Linked DNA regions of Homo sapiens: region 2 is linked to region 1. A link means that fine-mapping ties the variant in region 1 to the expression of a gene that starts in the linked region. Tissue or cell type: whole blood. Region 1 holds a variant in brackets; the other region holds the start of a gene. All regions are shown on one strand. Distances are between the middles of the regions.

Region 1 (9,844 bases):
AAGTACTAAAAGTCTCTGATATGCAGAAGTAATGGCATAAGCTGTCTTTCTCTCTGTCTCCTCTCTCTCTCTGCCTCGGCTGCCAGGCAGGGAAGGGCACCCTGTCCAGTGGACACGTGATCCACGTGACCTTACCTATCATTGGAGATGACTCACACTCTTTACCCTGCCCCTTTTGCTTTGTATCCAATAAATAACAATGCAGCCAGACATTCGGGGCCACTACCGGTCTCCGAGCATTGGTAGTAGTGGTCTCCCGGGCCCAGCTGCCTTTTCTTTTATCTCTTTGTCTTGTGTGTGTATTTCTACACTCTCTCATTGCTGCACACAGGGAGGGAGAGACCCACGGACCCTGTGGGGCTGGTCCCTACAAATACCAATGTCAAGATTTTAGACAATAATAAACCAAGTTTAGCAAAGTGCCACACTGGATTTAATTCAGAATTGCAAAGCAGTTTCAATGCCAGAGAATCAAGAGTGTAATTCATATCAATAGATTAAAGGAGCAAAACCCACGTGACCATCTCAATGGTTGCAGAACAGGAACACAGTAAATGACGCGACAGCCATTTATAACGAGTTTTTAGCAAACTAGGAATTAAGGTATTTCCTTACTCTGATAAGGGGATTTGGAGCCAGGCATGGACCCATCTTGAAACTACATTCTGGGTCAGGCAAATGTAGATGTATTGGAGGGAAAGACATCCCCATGGGTTCCCAAGAGGTGAAGTCATCATAGTGAACTAAGGGGCCAGTGAGGGTCTGGAAAAGGCCACTGCCATCACCTGGCTACAGAGACTGAAGAGGCGGGGGGGGGTCTCGTCCTGAGCAGAGACAGGACAACTGGGTGGGCCAGTGAGGGCTGCAGGTGGGGGAAGCTGAGAACCCAGCAATATTTTACTGCCACTGGATGTCTGCACAAGGAACCTATGCCAGCCAGGGAGGTTGAGAGTGAGGCTCAGTGGGGACTGGCATACTGGCTGAGTGGATGCAGTCATTGAGCAACGCATGTCATGCATGGCGTGGGCCATCACTCTGCTGGGTGAAAGTTTCAGGAGCGAATGAGACCCAGCCCTAGCTCTCAAGGAACCCATAGTCTCATAGGTAGTGGTCCTGCAAAGTGGCCAGGGAAAGGATCGGGGTGCAGGGTGCTGAAGTCACATGGAAAGTTGTGAACGTTGCCGGTACCAAAATGGAGTCACTTATGTCAAACTAAAACAGTTGGAGGTGATGAAGCAGCCCTCACGCACACATTCCTGCAACAGGACTTACCACAAGACATTTCTACAAACAGACCAATAACAGGACTCACTGCAAGACCATCCTCAACGGTTGCAGTATTCCAGATAAGCTGCTATTCCCAAATCCATTTATTTTAGAGAGTCTATCTCTGGATTTCTTCATAGGTTGACTGTGTCATGTAGGATTCAGTATAGTGAACAAAGATTGGGGAAAGGCAGACCCCAGGCAGAAGATCAGAGGCAAGGGGGACAGTCATGCATTTGTAAGGTCTAAAAAGTTCAGTCTGCTTTTGTGATACCTGACGAATTTTCATATGTTGTGTTTTCATTCAGTTCAAAATACTTGCTAATTTCCCTTTGATTTATTCTTTGGCTAATGAGTTATTTAAAGGTATGTCATTTAGTTTCCAAATATTTGGGAATTTACCAGAGATCTTTCTGTTACTGATTTCTAGTTGAATTTCATTGTGGTCAGAGAACATACTTTGTATAACTTGAGTCCTTGGCTGGGGCGTGGTGGCTCACACCTGTAATCCCGATACTGGGAGGCTGAGGCAGGAGGATCATTTGAGCCCAGGAGATTGAGGTCAGCCTGGGCAATGCAGCGAGACCCTGTCTCTACAAAAAAATTTAAAAAATCACCCTGGGGCGGTTGCCCACGCCTATGCCTATAGTCCCAGCTACTCAGAAAGCTGAGGTGGGAGGATCACTTGAGCCCAGGAGGTTGAGGCTGCAGTGAGCCATGTTCCTGCCACTGCACTCCAGCCTGGGCAACAGAGTGAGACCGTGTATCAAAAAACAACAAAAAACCACTTGAATCTTTTTGAAGTTAACAGGGTTTGTTTCATAGCCCAGACTGTGGTCTCTCCTGGTAAATGTTCTGTGTGTGCTCGAGAAGAATGTTTTCTGCTCTTGTTGAGTCAAGTGTTTTAATGTCAGGTCCAGTGGAGTTCAAGTTCTGTATCCTTGCCAATTTTCTTTTCTTTTTTCTTTCTTTCTTTCTTTTTTTTTTCTTGAGACAGAGTTTTGCTCTTGTTGCCCAGGCTGGAGTGCAATGGCGCGGTCTTGGCTCACTGCAACCTCTGTCTCCTGGGTTCAAGCAGTTCTCCTGTCAGCCTCCTGAGTAGCTGAGATTACAGGCATGCGCCACCATGCCCGGCTAATTTTGTATTTTTAATAGAGATGGGGTTTCTCCATGTTGGTCAGGCTGGTCTCGAACTCCCGACCTCAGGTGATCTGCCTTCCTCGGCCTCCCAAAGTGCTGGGATTACAGGCGTGAGCCACTGCACCTGGTGCCAATTTTCTATCTATTCATTCTGTCAATTATTGCACTTCATCAAAAATTAAAAATTAGGAAAACAGATAAAAAGGCTCACAGTGGGAGAAAATATTTGTAAAACATACAGTATAATAAAGGACTTGTGGCCGGGCGTGGTGCCTCACTCCTGTAATCCCAGCACTTTGGGAGGCCGAGGCAGGTGGATCACTTGAGCTCAGGAGTTCAAGACCAGCCCGACCAAGATGGTGAAATCCATCTCTACTAAAAATATAAAAATTAGCCGGGCGTGGTGGCAGGTGCCTGTAATCCCAGCTACTTGGGAGGCTGAGACAGGAGAATCACTTGAACCTGGGAAACGGAGGTTGCAGTGAGCCGAGCTGTCGCCACTGCACTCCAGCCTGGAAGACAGAGCAAGACTCCATCTCAAAAAATAGTAAATAAATAAATAAATAAAATGGCATAACCATTTTGAAGGTTCGTTTTTGCATAAAGATGTCCAGTGTTCCAGGACCAGTTGCTGAAAAGACTGTCTTCGTAGAATTGCCCTTGTACCTTCATCTGAAATCAATTGGCCATAAATCTGTGTAGGTCTATTTCTAAACTGTGTGTTCTGTTCCCCTGAACCTTTCGCCAGCGCCACACCGTCTTAATCACTGCAGCTCTATAGTAAGTGTTGAAATCGGGTAGCATGAGTCTTCCAACTTTGTTCTTTTTGAAATTGTTTTATTTCACATTTACTACATATAGTCATTACTTAATCTGCATTTGCTCTTAAAAAATGTAGCTCTTCTGGTTTTTAGGAAGGCTTGATTTTTTTTGGGTCTAGTTGCTACTTACTGTTCATACCCTTAAATAATATCTTTAGTCCCCTCAACCTTTAAAAGAGTTCTCATAGTTCCCTACTATGAAATAATTTGTAAACCTTTCCCCTCTCTCCCTTCTCTCTCTTTTCTACCACCCATGGTTTTTTTTGTTTTTTTTTTTGAGACAGGCCTCGCTCTGTCACCCAGGCTGGAGTGGAATGGCGCCATCTCAGCTCACTGCAACCTCTACCTCCCAGGTTCAGGCGATTCTCCTGCTCCAGCCTCCCTAGTAGCTGGGATTACAGATGCGCGCCACCAAGCCTGGCTAATTTTTGTATTTTTAGTAGAGATGGATTTCACCATGTTGGCCAGGCTGGTCTCGAACTCCTGACCTCAGGTGATCCACCTGCCTCGGCCTCCCAAAGTGCTGGGATTACAGGTGTGAGCCACCATGCCCGGCCCACCCATTTTTTGAATGAATACTATTATATTTCTTAGTATTTGCCTCTGTCCTCTTTAATATGCTAAACTTCTCAGTTTGTCAGCATTAAGTGATGTCTTTAGAATCCAACTATAATATGAAGGAATCAGCAGGGCGATTCTATTTTCCATCCTCTCTCTGCTTTCTTGTCTCATACTGTTATAGCTGCCTTTGTAAAATTGTTTTTTTACACATTCTGTTACCTTTGTGTATGAGTTTGCTAGGGCTGCCATTAACAAAGCACCGCAGAGCAGCTTAGGTGAGAGGAATTCATTGTTCACAGCTCTGGAGGGCAGGGGTCCAGTCCAGACATCAGCAGGGTTGGTTTCTTCTGAGGACCCTGAGTGAAGGCTGTTCCTGGGTGCTGTCCTTGGCCTGCAAACAGCATCCTCTCATCTTCCCCCTGTGCCTGTCTGTGGGTCCTGATTGCCTCTTCTTATAATAAGGACACCAGTCACATTGGATTAGAGCCCACCTTAGTGACCTCATCTTAACTAATAACATTTGCAGTGACACCATTTCCAAACAAGGTCACGTTCTGTGGTGCTTGGGGTTAAGACATCAGTGTGTGGATTTGGCAGGGAACACACCGTACGTACCCATCACAACTTGCTGCTGTTTTTATCTCGGTCCCTGTCCTCTAGTTGAATATGTGAGTGCTCACTCCCTGTTCCTCTTACTATCTGTGATCATCTCTCAGTTAACTAAAATTCACTCTAGTACAGCGGTACTTTTGACCAACATTTTTTGCCCCAGTGACTGGTTTCTTGGAAGACAATTTTTCCATGGACAGTAGGGGTGGTGGGAGGGATGGTTTGGGGATGAAACTGTGCCACTTCAGATCATCAGGCATTAGATTTTCATTAGGAGTGAGCAACCTAGATCCCTCGCATGCGCAGTTCACAGTAGGGTTTGCACTTCTATGAAGATCTAATGCCACCGCTGATCTGACAGGAGGCAAAGCTCAGCAGTAATGCTCCGCCTCAATTCGTTTGTTTTAGCAAAGTTGTCTGGACTTCTACCTTGGAGTCTGTCCTGTCTTGGCTCTGCCCTGCCAGCCAAGGACCTGCCTGCTGCTGCCTCCCCACCGCTGCTTCCCCTGCTGCTGCCTCCCCCGCCACCGCCTCTCCTGCCTGCTTGCTCTGCTGCTGTTGTGCCTCTTCACGTCCCTGTTTCTTCCTGGCTGCACTTTCCACAGCATCTCTAGACTTGTGTCTGTGGCCTTTGCTTCCAGTCCTTCCTAAGTTCCACCAG[CACCTGTCCACCTGT/T]TCTTCCTGGGGCCGCAGAGTTCCCCATGGCCATTTCCGCTGCAGCCACTCCCCTGGCCACTTCCCCAGCTGCATCATGGGGCTGCCCGCTGGCTTGCCACTTTCACTTGGCTTTGTGGCAGTGGTTTTCTCTGTGTTTTCTTCATCTGCAGGGAAGTCTTGCTGTTCCCTTTTTGTTTGTTTGTTTTTGAGACAGGGTCTTGCTTTGTTGCCTGGGCTGGAGTGCAGTGACATAGTCACAACTCACTGCAGTCTTGACCTCCTGGGCTTAAGCGATCCTCCCGCCTCAGCCTCCCAAAGTGCTGGGATTCAGGAGTGAGCACTGCACTGGCCACCCGCTCCTTTTAGGTTTCTTTTTTCCCTCTGGTATCTTTGGGTGGATATTGATACTCATATTTGGATGAATTGGGTTTCCTGGATTGGGAGGGTGGGGCTGGCAGAGCCCAGAGTATAACTTTTCTGGTTTTGAGCCTGCCCCTCTCCTGACGTGCAGTAGCCTCTAGTATGGGCTGCCTCTGTGGCAGGGCAGGCTGAGTGCCGGAGCCCAGTAGGGCCAGGAGCGCCTCCACCACCATCCACAAGATCCCCTCTTATCTGGAAGTGGAGTGTCCACCCAGCACCCATGCCCCACTTCCGTGTGTGTTTCCGCAGCTCCACTCCCTGCTGGTGTTCAGCCCCTTCCCAGCAGTCCCATTCAGGCTAGGGCCTTCTCCTTCTGGGGTGTGACCCTGAGGGTTTCCTGTTCCCACCTCCTCCCGGCTTTCTCCACGCTCCCGCTGCCCCCCGACACCTGTTCACCCTCGGGACTCCATGCATAGTCTGCTTGTCTTTAAAATATAATAATTATTTTTTGGACACAGGGTCTCCCTGCGTTGCCCAGGCTGGAGTGCAGTGGCTCTTCACAGGTGCAATTATACTGCACTGCGGCCACAAACTCCTGGCCTCAAGCGATCCTCCCACCTCAGCCTCCCAAGTAGCTGAGACCACAAGTGCATGCTATTAAGCCTGGCTTAAAAAACAACGTATTTATTGAAAATTTGAGGTTCAGTAAGGCCACCAGATCAGGAGATAATTGCCATTGAAAGGATAGTTTACGACAGTTTCCAGGAGAAGGGGTACCCCAAGCCACACAGGGCCACACGGGGAAGTGCTGGAGTCGGTCAGGAGGCAGGAGAGGGCAGAACTGTGGGTGAAGCCCGTAATGTGGTTTCCATGGGAGGGGGTGGGCGAGGCGGTAGGGAGGCTTAGGCTTGGCTCATTTGAATGATTTCAGCGCGCTCTGGGGTGTAACACCTGCATGCTCAGTGAGCTCCTCGAGGAATCCCCCGTATCGCTGCAGTAATTCCCGTATACGCCTTGTGAGGGCTGCACACAGGCTGTAGTGGCCCTTCTGCAGCTCAGCGTGGATGGCTTCTCCAGGGTCAGCCAGAAGCAGTGGGGTCAGAGCGAAAACCAGGGCTTCCTGGCTGTGACGCATGTGCCTTCAGCCACTGAGCTGCCCTGCTTACCCCACAGGAATTGGGAAGACATCAGGGAGGGCTTACTGGGGAAGGTGAGCATCAACCTTGACCCTGAACGATGGGAAAATTAGGATGGCAGAAAAGGGCATTCAAGAAAGGAAGAATTGGCCAGGCACAGTGGCTCACGCCTGTAATCCCAACACTTGGGGAGGCCGAGGCGGGCGGATCACCTGAGGTCAGGAGTTCAAGACCAGCCTGGCTAACATGGTGAAACCCCATCTCTACTGAAAATACAAAAAATTAGCCAGGTGTGGTGGCAGGCGCCTAATCCCTGCTGCTTGGGAGACTGAGGCAGGAGAATCACTTGAACCAGGGAGGCGGAAGTTGCAGTGAGCTGAGATCCCACCATTGCACTCCAGCCTGGGCGACAGAGTGAAACTCCATCTCAAAAAAAAAAAAAAAAAAAAGATACAAAAATTAGCCAGATGCGGTGGCACATGCCTGTAGTTCCAGCTACTTGGGAGGCTGAGACAGGAGAATCGCTTGAACCAGGACGGGGAGGTTGCAGTGAGCCTAGATCATGCCACTGCACTCCAGCCTGGGTGACAGAGTGAGACTCCAACCCCCTCCCCCCGCAAAAAAGGAAGAATTATATATATGATTATTATATATTATATACATATTACATGTACTATATAGAGAGATGATACATAGATATAGATCTATAAACAGATGGGATCTTGCTATGTTGGTCTTGAACTCCTGGCCTCAAGCAATTCTCCTGTCTCGGCCTCCCAAAGTGCTGGGATTACCAGCGTGAGCCACTGCTCCTGGTCAAGAGAGGAAGAATTTTTTGTTTTCTCAAACAAAGGAAGGGAAGGTTCTGACACGTGGGAAGTTTCCCCAGGGACGGAGTCCCTGTAAGGACAACGGGGCCGCGCAGAGCCTGGACGCTCAGGCCAAGGACTGACATGTCCCCAGAGCAGAAGGGCTGTGTCTGAGTCCCCGGTGAGGGTCGTGAGGACAGAAGACTCAAGCCCAGCAATACAGGCTGGGGCAAAAACACAGACGGGGTGGTCAACTGCGGGACAGAGATCAGCAGGAACTGTGGCTGTGCTGGCAGGATCCACTAACTACATAAAGTCATCAGTAAACATGGACAGTACATTTTTTATTTTTTTGAAATGGACTCTTGTTCTGTCACCCAGAATGGAGTGCAGTGGTGCGATCTCAGCTCACTGCAACCTCTGTCTCCCAGGTGCAAGCGATGCTCCTGCCTCAGCCTCCTGAGTGGCTATTACAGGTGCACACCACCACACCCGGCTAATTTTTATATTTTTAGTAGAGATGGGGTTTCACCATGTTGGCCAGGCTGGTCTCGAACTCCTGACCTCAGGTGATCCGCCCGCCTCGGCCTCCCAAAGTGCTGGGATTATAGGCATGAGCCACCATGCCCGGCCCATGGGCAGTACATTTGTGGGCTGGTGGGAGAGGGCTTGTCTTGGGCCTGTGCAGCTCCTCAGTTTCTCAGTCACCATGATCCTTGGAAAAGAGAAGATTCCAGGAAAGAGTAGAGAGATGACCTGGTTCCCCAGTATCAGGAAGGCGGAAGTGGCAAAGGGAGCAGAGACATTCAACGGTTCACGGGCAGAGCCAGGCCATGGGGGAAGGACCTTCTAAGATAGCCAGAGGCTGTGAATCCACATACAGGGTAGTGACACACACGCTCGACTCAGACTTTTGGGTCCTGTCCATAGCTGTGAAAGGGTACACTCGGGGACCTGCTGCGAAGGTTTGTTGTGCAGTCTCATGAGATGACACCAGCAGTGTGGTGAGACTCCTGCCTGGGCCGTGGCAAGATCTTGATCATGTTTAGCTCCTTTTTCACGAAGAAAGCTCTGCAGCCTGGGCCTGCCATACCCAGGGCGGGGAGGGGGGTGACTGCTCTTCGCTGATGCTCCAGTGAAAGGGGGGCACCTGGGCCCGAGGCAGATGCAACGGAGTTCCCAGTGACCAGCAGCCGGAATGACCTCTCTGAGCACGTCTGCATTCAACAAACCTGGACCAGGCTCAGCACAGGCCAGGCGGGGCACTGCAGGCATATCTGTGGAATGAGAGAATGAAGCTCCCCAAACACCCAGGCCTGAAAGAGGAGCAACAAGAAAGGAGTGAAGGAGTGGGGAGGAGCAGCGAAGAAACTTCCTGAGCGCCTCCTCCTGGCAGGACCTCCCATCCATCGTCTCTGACCCTCACAGAGTTCTACAAGGGAGTCTTCTCACCAAGCAGGCACTCCACGGAGTTGGGGTTTCTGCCCGCATTATTCAGCAATGAGGCCGCAACCAGAATGGTGCCTGGCACTTAGTGGGCGTTCAGCAATTCTCTCTCTCTCTTTTTTTTTTTTAAGACAGAGTTTCGCTCTCGTTGCCCAGGCTGGAGTGCAATGGTGCTATCTTGGCTCACTGCAACCTCCACCTCCCAGGATCAAGTGATTCTCCTGCCTCAGCCTCCCGAGTAGCTGGGATTACAGGTGCCTGACACCACGCCCAGCTAACATTTTTGTATTTTTAGTAGAGACAGGGTTTCACCATGTTGGGCAGGCTGGTCTTGAACTCCTGACTTCAGGTGATCCACTGGTCTTGGCCTCCCAAAGTGCTGGGATTACAGGTGTGAGCCTCTGCGCCCAGCCAGCAAATGTCTCTTGAATGAATGAATGCCAGTGTGATCGATGCTGAAGCTGTGATGAGCAAGGATGTGACACGTCTGAGGTCACAGATGCTGGACTTTCACCCCGATCCCACTGCAGGGCCTCTGTCTGCCATGGATTTTTTTTTCTTTCTTTTCTTTTTGAGACAGAGTCTCACTCTGTCGCCCAGGCTGGAGTGCAGTGGCACAGTCTCGGCTCACTGCAACCTCCGCCTCCCAGGCTTAAGTGATTCTCCTGCCTCAGCCTCCTGAGTGGCTGGGACTACAGGTGCATGCCACGATGCCTGGATAATTTTTGTATTTTTGGTAGAGACAGGGTTTCACCATCTTGGTGAGGCTGGTCTTGAACTCCTGACCTAAAGTGATCTGCCCACCTCAGCCTCCCAAAGTGTTGGGATTACAGGCGTGAGCCACTGCGCCAGGCCCCTTTCCCTCTTACTGGTCTTCTTTTGAATTTAGTTTTTAAAACAATCTTTTCAGTTTATTTGTTGTCTTATTCACTGACAGTCTTTTGTTTTCTTGTTTGTTTGTTGACTTTAACAGGTGCTTTAGGGTTTATAGTATGTCTTTAATTTATCACAGTCTACCTTCATCTAGTATAAGAACCTT
Region 2 (8,000 bases), 25 kb before region 1:
TGATGGTGGCAGGGAGCCTTTTACCAACCACGAAGGTGCCTCAAGAGAGGAAGACTTTGCCTGTGTGGCACTGCCAGGGCTCCACTGAGCCAGCCCTGTTTTAAAAGCCTTCCTTGGTGCTCTAGTTGTTCCTATGGGTGCCTGAGTGACCATGAGTGACTGTCTTTAGTCAAAAACCCTCCCCACCTGAAGTAGCACTTTCATTACCCTAGAGTCACCATCCTGGTAAATAGAGGGTTCGTTCCCAGGAAGAAAGTGAATCCTGAAACCCGGCAGAAAGGCCAGGTAAGGGACATGGACTCTTCCTACTTTAGAGAAGGCTCTGGGAGTCCACCAGGCTCCATGCAATCTCACACACCTTCCTTTATAGATTGAGGGAGAAGTGGACCTCATTGGGATGGTGAGGCTGACAGAAACCAGGCAGCCTTTTGTCCCTGAGAACAATCCAGAAAGGAACCACTGGCATTATCGAGACCTGGAAGCTATGGCCAGAATCACAGGCGCAGAGCCCATCTTCATTGATGCCAACTTCCGTACGTTGTGGACCAGCCCATCTCGGAACAAGTAGCTTTTGTGAATACTGTCCTTCCTCCTAACCCTCATTGCCCAGTCACTACTGTGGCTTATGTTCTCACATGTGTATATGGCGGGTGGGAGGAGGCAGCAACTCAGCAAAGAACCTAGGCAAGTACTGAGCGGACAAGGGCGGGGATGGTCACCCAACGTAAAGGCCATACAGGACTTCCAACTGGCCACGCAAAAATGACAGCCACTAGGAAGTGGTGCAGAGGCTGGCAGGCCAGTAGGGGGTGGACTTGAGTCTGCTGTCTCCACAGAGAGCACAGTCCCTGGAGGACCCATTGGAGGGCAAACCAGAGTTACTCTGAGGAACGAGCATCTGCAGTACATCGTGACCTGGTGAGTCCCCAGCGGCCCTCTGGCTTCCTCCCCTTCAGCCTAGCAGCCTGCTAATGCTGGCTTGCTTTCAACCCCTAGGTATGGACTCTCTGCAGCTACATCCTACCTGTGGTTTAAGAAATTCCTACGTGGGACACCTGGTGTGTGACAGATCAGCTGCTGAAGCCCTGTCCCTGGATAATGCAGTATTTCAAGACTGCCTTTATGCTGGATCATGTGCTACTGGTATAAAGTTCTGGCCTTCTACCTTAAATGAGCTCATGACTGGTTCATCATAAAATCCTGGCTTGGTTTCAGTCCAAAGAACTTTCCCAAAACTTGATACTCAAGTTACATCTCTAGGGAACAAAATGCCTGGTTTAAGAATGTATTTAAGGGTGGGAAGGGCCGGGTGCGGTCAGGAGCTCAGACCAGCCTGGCTAACATGGTGAAACCCCATCTCTACCAAAAACACAAATATGGGCCAGCCAGTTGGGATGCTGAGGCACCAGAATATCCTAAACCTGGGAGGCGAAGGTTGCTTTGACATCACACCACTGCACTCCAGCCTGGGCGACAGAGTGAGGCTGTGTCTCAAAAAGATACTTGCTAACCCCAAGTAAGATTCAACCCGAGATACTCAACAGACACTGGCTGAAGGAAAATTTGTATTATTTCAATTATTTTTATGTACAGAAAACTCAACAGTGTACATTTAACCCAGTTTAGTGGCAAGTTCTTTAGCCTTTGCCTTTTCGAGCTTGGCGATACGAGCCACAGACTTAGGACCCAGGACATTGCCACCCCAGTGACGGCGGATCTGAAAAGACAAAAAGAGGCAGTTAGCTTGGCTTACTGTTTTCTGAGATTTTCAAGGTTATTAGTTGCGTTAATTCTGTTTGGCTGTTCCAAGCTGATCGTCAGATAGAACTTCTCATAGGTTAAGCCAGCCAGTTATTTGGGAGAAAGATTTGTGAATGACAGTATTTTGGTGTAAAGCTGCCTCTTACCTCATCGTATCTGTCATTGTAATTGGTCCTGATAGCTTCCACCAGCTTAGCCAAAGCGCCTTTGTCTTCCCTAAAAGGCAGGAGGGGAAACAAAAGTGGGTTTTTTGCCTTAGTTTCCCTTTTAGAATGCAAAAATACCTTTTAGCTCAAGACAGTCTTTTGCCTCAGATGCAATGCTGACCACATGGTTTATTCAGGTGAAGAAATTCTTAACCATCATTGGCAAAAGTTCAGATAAATATATTTCTTAAACTAAAAGATTGGCCTTTAAGGCAAAAGGAAACAACTGTGAGGCATGGATTAAATGAACTGGGGGGAAGTTTGGGGCCAGGCTGTGTACTTACGAGTTCACCTGTGTGAAGGCGACAGTGGTGCAGGTCTTCCTGTGGACTAGACGTCCCAGTCTTGCCTTTCCCTTGATAATGCAGTAAGGGACCCCCATTTTACGACACAGGGCAGGCAAGAAGACAACCAGCTGGAAGAAAGCATTAGCTGAAGACTGTATTTTGACCAAAAGCAGCAAATTTCAGTTAGCTTGTAACAATTGCTCAGGGTTAAAAAGCTCATGGATTCGCACTTCAAGGTTGAATTCAGTGAGAGATTCACATCATTGCAAGAGCCACGCATGTGTTGGATCTGTGTCAGTACTGCCCTCACCCACTTCGGTCCCATCACTGACTTGGCATTAGGTCTACTCTCTCTTCCTGGTACTGCCAGAAGCCCTTGGGTTAGCAGTCAACAGGCAAACGCACCTCGATGGGATCCACGTCGTGTGCAATCACCACCAGCTGAGCTTTCTTGTTCTCCACCAAGGTGGTGACGGTGTTAACTCCTAGAACACACAACCACTTTGTGAGCACTCACAGGGCCTGCTCTAGTCACAAGAAGCTGCTGGGCTCAGCTGCTGACTCAGTGTTAAAAAGCTCGGTTTTACTCTTCACAGTAATTTCAGGCCAAGAAATTTTACATCACTGCAACAGCCCGCCCCCAGTGTTCACCCTAAGGTGGGGCCTACTCACCTGCTCGAAGGACAGGTGGTCTCTTCGTTGGGACGTCCCCTTTGCCAGCAGCCTTCTTCTCGGCCCGGGCCAACAGTCTCTGCTTCTTCTCTTGCTTTGTCTCTGGTCTGTACTTGTGGGCCAGCTTAAGCAGCTGAGTAGCTGGAAAAACACTCTTCAGTTTAGGCTTGGAGTCAAGGTTCTAATCCTTGTCACTTAACACTTAATAACAAATGCTGGACTGCGGTCCTGCTATATGACTATAATTTAATGACAACTGCAGTTCAAGAAGCCTAAGACCATCCCCCTCATGTTCTGGATGAAATAAGGAATCCTTGCCTGAGAAACTCCTTTCCACGCCACAGAACCTCACCTGTTTGGCGGTCCAGGGCCTGGGTGAACTGGTTAATCGCAGGAGGCACTTTCAGCCGCTTATAGAGGATGGCTCTCTGCCGCTGCAACCTGATATAGCGGGGCCATTTCACAAAGCGGGTGAGGTCTCTTTTGGGCTGGATGTCCTGTCCTGAGAAGTAAAGGGTGACACCGAGTGAGGCTCAAATTCCATGTCAAGTTCATGTCTGGGGCCACTAGGAAGGGTGTTGGTGCATCAGCGATCTTGGTGGTTTAAAATGTCATCACCATCTCTCAGATAGCAAATATTCTTTTACATCATCTGCACACAAACACCTGAGAACAAAGAGCACGATGCTTTTCCTCATCTAACAAGAAGCCAAGGTGCCACGAAGTACAGCAGAATTGCAGTCCTAGTACCTCGCTGCGACACTGCTACTGTACTTGTTTCCAGATGGCTAAGCTGAATTCAAGGCCACTACCATATTGAGCTGAATGCTCGCTCAGCAACTCCCAATGAAAGCAAGAAGCATGTATCATTGCCCCCGTCTCTAAGAGACACAAATTAAGGACTGCGACCACTTTACACCCACTAAAACCTACAAGATACAACACAACCCAATTACCACCTTCCCTTGAGAAAAACATAGACCGTTTTCATTCTGCCGTTTGTTACTTACCAATGCCAAAATTCTTAGGCCTTTTCTCAAACAGGGGATTCACCACTTTCTTAGCCTCCTGCTTCTTCACGACAGCTGGGGCCGGAGCCACCTTCTTTCCCTTGGCCTTCTTTCCTTTCGGCTGGGCAGAAAGAAAACGTCAGTTAAACCGCCGCCTCCACTCGCTTCGTCGGGGGTAGGGCTCAGGCTGGCTCCTCCAAAACAAGGGACGCTGACAGCACCTGCCTGAACTAAGCTGGCGAGCAGCTTTCTGCAACCCCCCAGCACCACCCCTCGACAGGAGCATCTCACATTCAGCCGCACAAGCATGCAGCCCCGGGAACCCCGAGTGGCCAGAGCAAGGCTAAGCCCGAGACCACGCTCTCTTCGCGTCGCCCACCCAGGAGACACCCCGGACTCATGACTCCTCTGAGTCGCGGCCCCACAGGCTCTAGAAGCAACAGGGGCGGGCTCAGAACTCGTCGCTCACAAGGCCTCTGGAGCGGCCCCCAGCAAGCCCGAGAGACGCTAGGGCTCCGAGCCCCGCACTGCGGTGCTCCAGGCCTGCGACACCCAGCCCTGCGACACCGGGAACAACGCATTCCGCTCTCGGCCGCCCGGGGCTCTAGTCCATCTCAATGTCTCCGTGCCACACCAAGTGGGGCTCTAATCCACCTCGGTGTCTCCGTGCCACACCGAGTGGGGCTCTCCTAGCGCCAGGAGGAGCAGGAGGCCCTCCGAGGCCGCGCCTGGAGGAGGATGGCAGCGGATACAGCCGGAACCTGGCTATAGTGCCACGGAACTACAGCTCACTCACCATCTTGGGCGGCGGGAGGAGAGAGAAAGGAAAGGGAATTGTGGGTAATATGTATGCGGCCTCGGAGATCGCGAGAGTTGATACCGGCACGGGATTTCGGATTTAAAGCAACAGCATTCCTATAAAGCTAAAAATCGAGGCGGGGCCGAGAGGCTGCGGCGGCTGACTAGGTTTTCGGACCGCGGCGCGGCGGGGAAGAGAGACTGCGGCGGGAGGGCCAGGCCGTGGGAGAGACGCGGGAAAGTGCGGGTCGCAGAGGCACTTGACCACCCCGCCCTAGGCCGACCCGGCGGACGCGGCGTCTGGTGTGCGGGCGCTGGGGCGGGTATGAGGGTGTGGTGGGGGGTGGGGATGGAGGGGGGGTGGGTGTGTGGGCGGGAGTGGGGGTGGGTGGGTGCGTAGGCGCTGGGGTCGGAGATCCCCTTTCCTGCGTGTGACTTATTTCCCACACCCCGCCAAAAATGGGCACAAACAATGCGAGTGCGTCCAGGAGTCCGCTCGGTCGTGCGCCAGACTCCGAACCTAGGGGGCCCCGGGCCCTCCCTGAGCACCGCGCGCAAAGGCCCGGCCCCAGGGCCAGGCAACTCCAGCGCCGAGGCCGTCCAGTGCGGCTGGAGGGCAGAGGCCGAGAGGCGCGGCGCGGAACTTGAGCCCCTTGTCCCGGCGCACCGGGGAACCATGAGGGATGTTAAGCGAGGGAGTGGAATTACCCCCCTTTTTTTTTTCTTTTGGAGACGTAGTCTCCCCCTGTCGCCCAGGCTGGAGTGCAGTGGCGCGATCTCGGCTCACTGCGACCTGTGCTTCCCGGGTTCAAGCGATTCTCCTGCCTCAGCCTCCCGAGTAGCTGGGATTACAGGCGCCTGCCATCACGCCCGGCTAATTTTTGTATTTTTAGTAGAGTTGGGGTTTCACCATGTTGGTCAGGCTAGTCTCAAACTCCTGACCTCAGGTGATCCCTGCCTCGGCCTCCCAAAGTGCTGGGATTACAGGCGTGAGCCACCGCGCCCGGTTGGAATGACCACTTTTTAGGACCTCTTCCCTGCCGCGCAGAGACTGGAGGGAGCGGGGCCCGCAGTGCAGGGATGAGGTCTGGAGCGGGGCAGCCTGAGTGGGAGTGGAAGGAAAGCGTGGATGTAGGCGGTGCAGAGGGGTCGAATTGGAAGGACTCTTCGGATGGGAGGGCGTGGCGAAGGTGGCGGCGGGCTAAGAAGTTAAGCCAAGGGCTGGGGACGGGGAGCTGGTGTTGAGTTTGCAGGGCTCCCTGGGACACGCTGTGGGCCTGGACGTGAAGTCTGGACTGGAGCCCTGGACAGGGCTTGGAGGGCTGGCCAGGAGTTCCAGGATGAGCTTGCTCTGGCAAAGGCGGGGCCAGTCCTGGCACCCCCTGCGGTGTCTGCTGATGGAATGAGTTCATCTGTGTTTCAGTGATTGACTTTATTTGGCAGAAAGGGAATCCCCAGAAATCTGCGTGTTCTGCTAAGGTTGGGGCATAGAGGGTGGCTGGGGTAGACTCTGCCTGCACTCAGAGGTCTGTGCTGCACTCTAGGTCCCAGGTCTCCCCGCTGCGCTGCTTGAGGCTCGGCCATGGCCCAGCAGAGAGCCCTGCCCCAGAGCAAGGAGACGCTGCTGCAGTCCTACAACAAGCGGCTGAAGGACGACATTAAGTCCATCATGGACAACTTCACCGAGATCATCAAGACCGCCAAGGTGGGGGTGGGGTGGCCCACCAAGGGGAGCAGAGTCTGAGAAGGGGTGGAGACAGGAGAGGCCAGGGGCTGAGCAGCGCGAGTGAATAGTGTTCTAGGCAGGAAGCACCCAGTGCACAGGGAGCTGGTCAGTAGATAAGCAAACCAAATAATGGCACGTCCAGCCCTTACTAACAGTATGGATTTGGATGGAGATTTCACTTTTTAGTGCCTCAGTTTCTCCTGCATGGTGGGGTCCTTGTGATGACTGGTGAGTTTATCTGTGTAAAACAGTTACCTCGGGGCCTGGCACACAGCCAATGAGCAGGAGAAAAGCAGACTGAGGGGAGAAGTGGGGGGGGGCCTCCAGGCAGGTGGAGCGGTCAGCACTGGGGCCTGCAAGCCTGCTGACCACTGCAGCTACAGCTGCATCAGATTGGGCTGGATCCCTCCTGGCTGCTGCAGACCTGGCAGGCTCCATAAGCGATGATGATGAGGATGGAAGCTAGCATGTACTTAGTGCTTGCCATGTATCAAGCCACGTTGTGAGGTTATCTGTGCCTGTTCTGCTGAATCTTCATGAGGACTCTGTGAGGTGGGCACTGTTGTCCTCTTCATTTCAGGAGGAAACCCAGGCCCAGGAGACTTAGTGACTTGCCCAAGGTCACTCAGCTCACAACTGGCTGAGCCAGGATTTGAACCCACGAAGTCTGGGTCTTAACCACTGAGGGTACCTGACACCCACCCCGAACTGAGCCTTTGCAAGGCCTGCCGGGAAGCCCCATCCAGCCTCGCTTGGCCACCTATACACCAGGGGTGGCAGGCCAGGCTTCTGTGAAACTGGCATGGGTTAATGGTGGTCAAGTGCATGACACAGCCTGGCACCTGGGAAGTGATCAGGAAATGGTCGCGAAAAAAAACTTAAATCATCCCTTCACTCATCCAACAGTTTACCAAATGCCAAGCAAGTGACAACGGTTCCTACCAAACAGGGCTCCCACAGCCCAAAAAGACCGGGCCAAGATAAGCCCCCATCCCTGCACCTAGTACAGCAAGCAGCGTGGGTTGCCTCTATTTGTCTTGAGCAAAGGTGCATGTTGTCTCCCATGGCCAGAACAAGAGAGGGTGGAATTGAACCTTGTCAGAGGTCTGGCTGACAGCGCTTAGGTCTGTAGATGGCACCACAGACAGGTTGTGGCCAGTGTGGACATCCTGGGTAGATGACAGTTACCGTAAGCTGGGCTGGGCCGGGCCAGGGGTGGGGATGCCTTGGCTGGGTTGATTTCTAGGTTTTCTTGTTTTCCCCCAGATTGAGGACGAGACGCAGGTGTCACGGGCCACTCAGGGTGAACAGGACAATTACGAGATGCATGTGCGAGCCGCCAACATCGTGAGTGGCCAGGGTGGAGGGCACGGCCTGGGCTCCAAGAGCATCAGTCCCCTCAGGTTTCCTGGGTGGAGTGGAGGGGGCTCTGGGGCTGGTCTGGTCTTCTTCCCCCGAGAAGGAGCAGAAGGAGGCAAATGTAGAGATGCTTTGGTTTCACCACTCGGCAGCTTTAAAGAATGAGGTGGGGGCAAATCAT

The links. PIP is the estimated chance that this variant, and not a neighbour inherited with it, causes the effect.
Region 2: it holds the start of MED22, and the variant in region 1 is fine-mapped to the expression of MED22 in whole blood (TOPMed, PIP 0.96).

The regions. Positions count from the first base shown.
Region 1 is chr9:133,319,354-133,329,197 of GRCh38, reverse strand. SURF6 (surfeit 6) reads left to right here. Exons shown (of 5, transcript NM_006753.6): 5 at 1-422. Among named protein-coding and RNA genes, the nearest start is that of SURF6, 12 kb to the left of the region's middle. The variant CACCTGTCCACCTGT/T (reference allele first, on the strand shown) is at 5,059.
Region 2 is chr9:133,344,979-133,352,978 of GRCh38, reverse strand. MED22 (mediator complex subunit 22) reads left to right here and starts at 4,848. Exons shown (of 5, transcript NM_133640.5): 1 at 4,848-5,057; 2 at 6,279-6,439; 3 at 7,727-7,807. The coding sequence starts at 6,317. RPL7A (ribosomal protein L7a) reads right to left here and starts at 4,761. Exons shown (of 8, transcript NM_000972.3): 1 at 4,733-4,761; 2 at 3,937-4,057; 3 at 3,279-3,428; 4 at 2,927-3,067; 5 at 2,660-2,739; 6 at 2,252-2,382; 7 at 1,908-1,977; 8 at 1,553-1,717. The coding sequence starts at 4,735. The coding sequence ends at 1,613. SURF1 (SURF1 cytochrome c oxidase assembly factor) reads left to right here. Exons shown (of 9, transcript NM_003172.4): 6 at 213-285; 7 at 371-533; 8 at 837-918; 9 at 997-1,221. The coding sequence ends at 1,066. SNORD24 (small nucleolar RNA, C/D box 24) reads right to left here and starts at 3,583; the gene lies at 3,509-3,583. It also overlaps SNORD36B, SNORD36A and SNORD36C. RefSeq lists enhancers at 4,340-4,809, 4,671-4,965, 6,270-6,771, 6,772-7,275.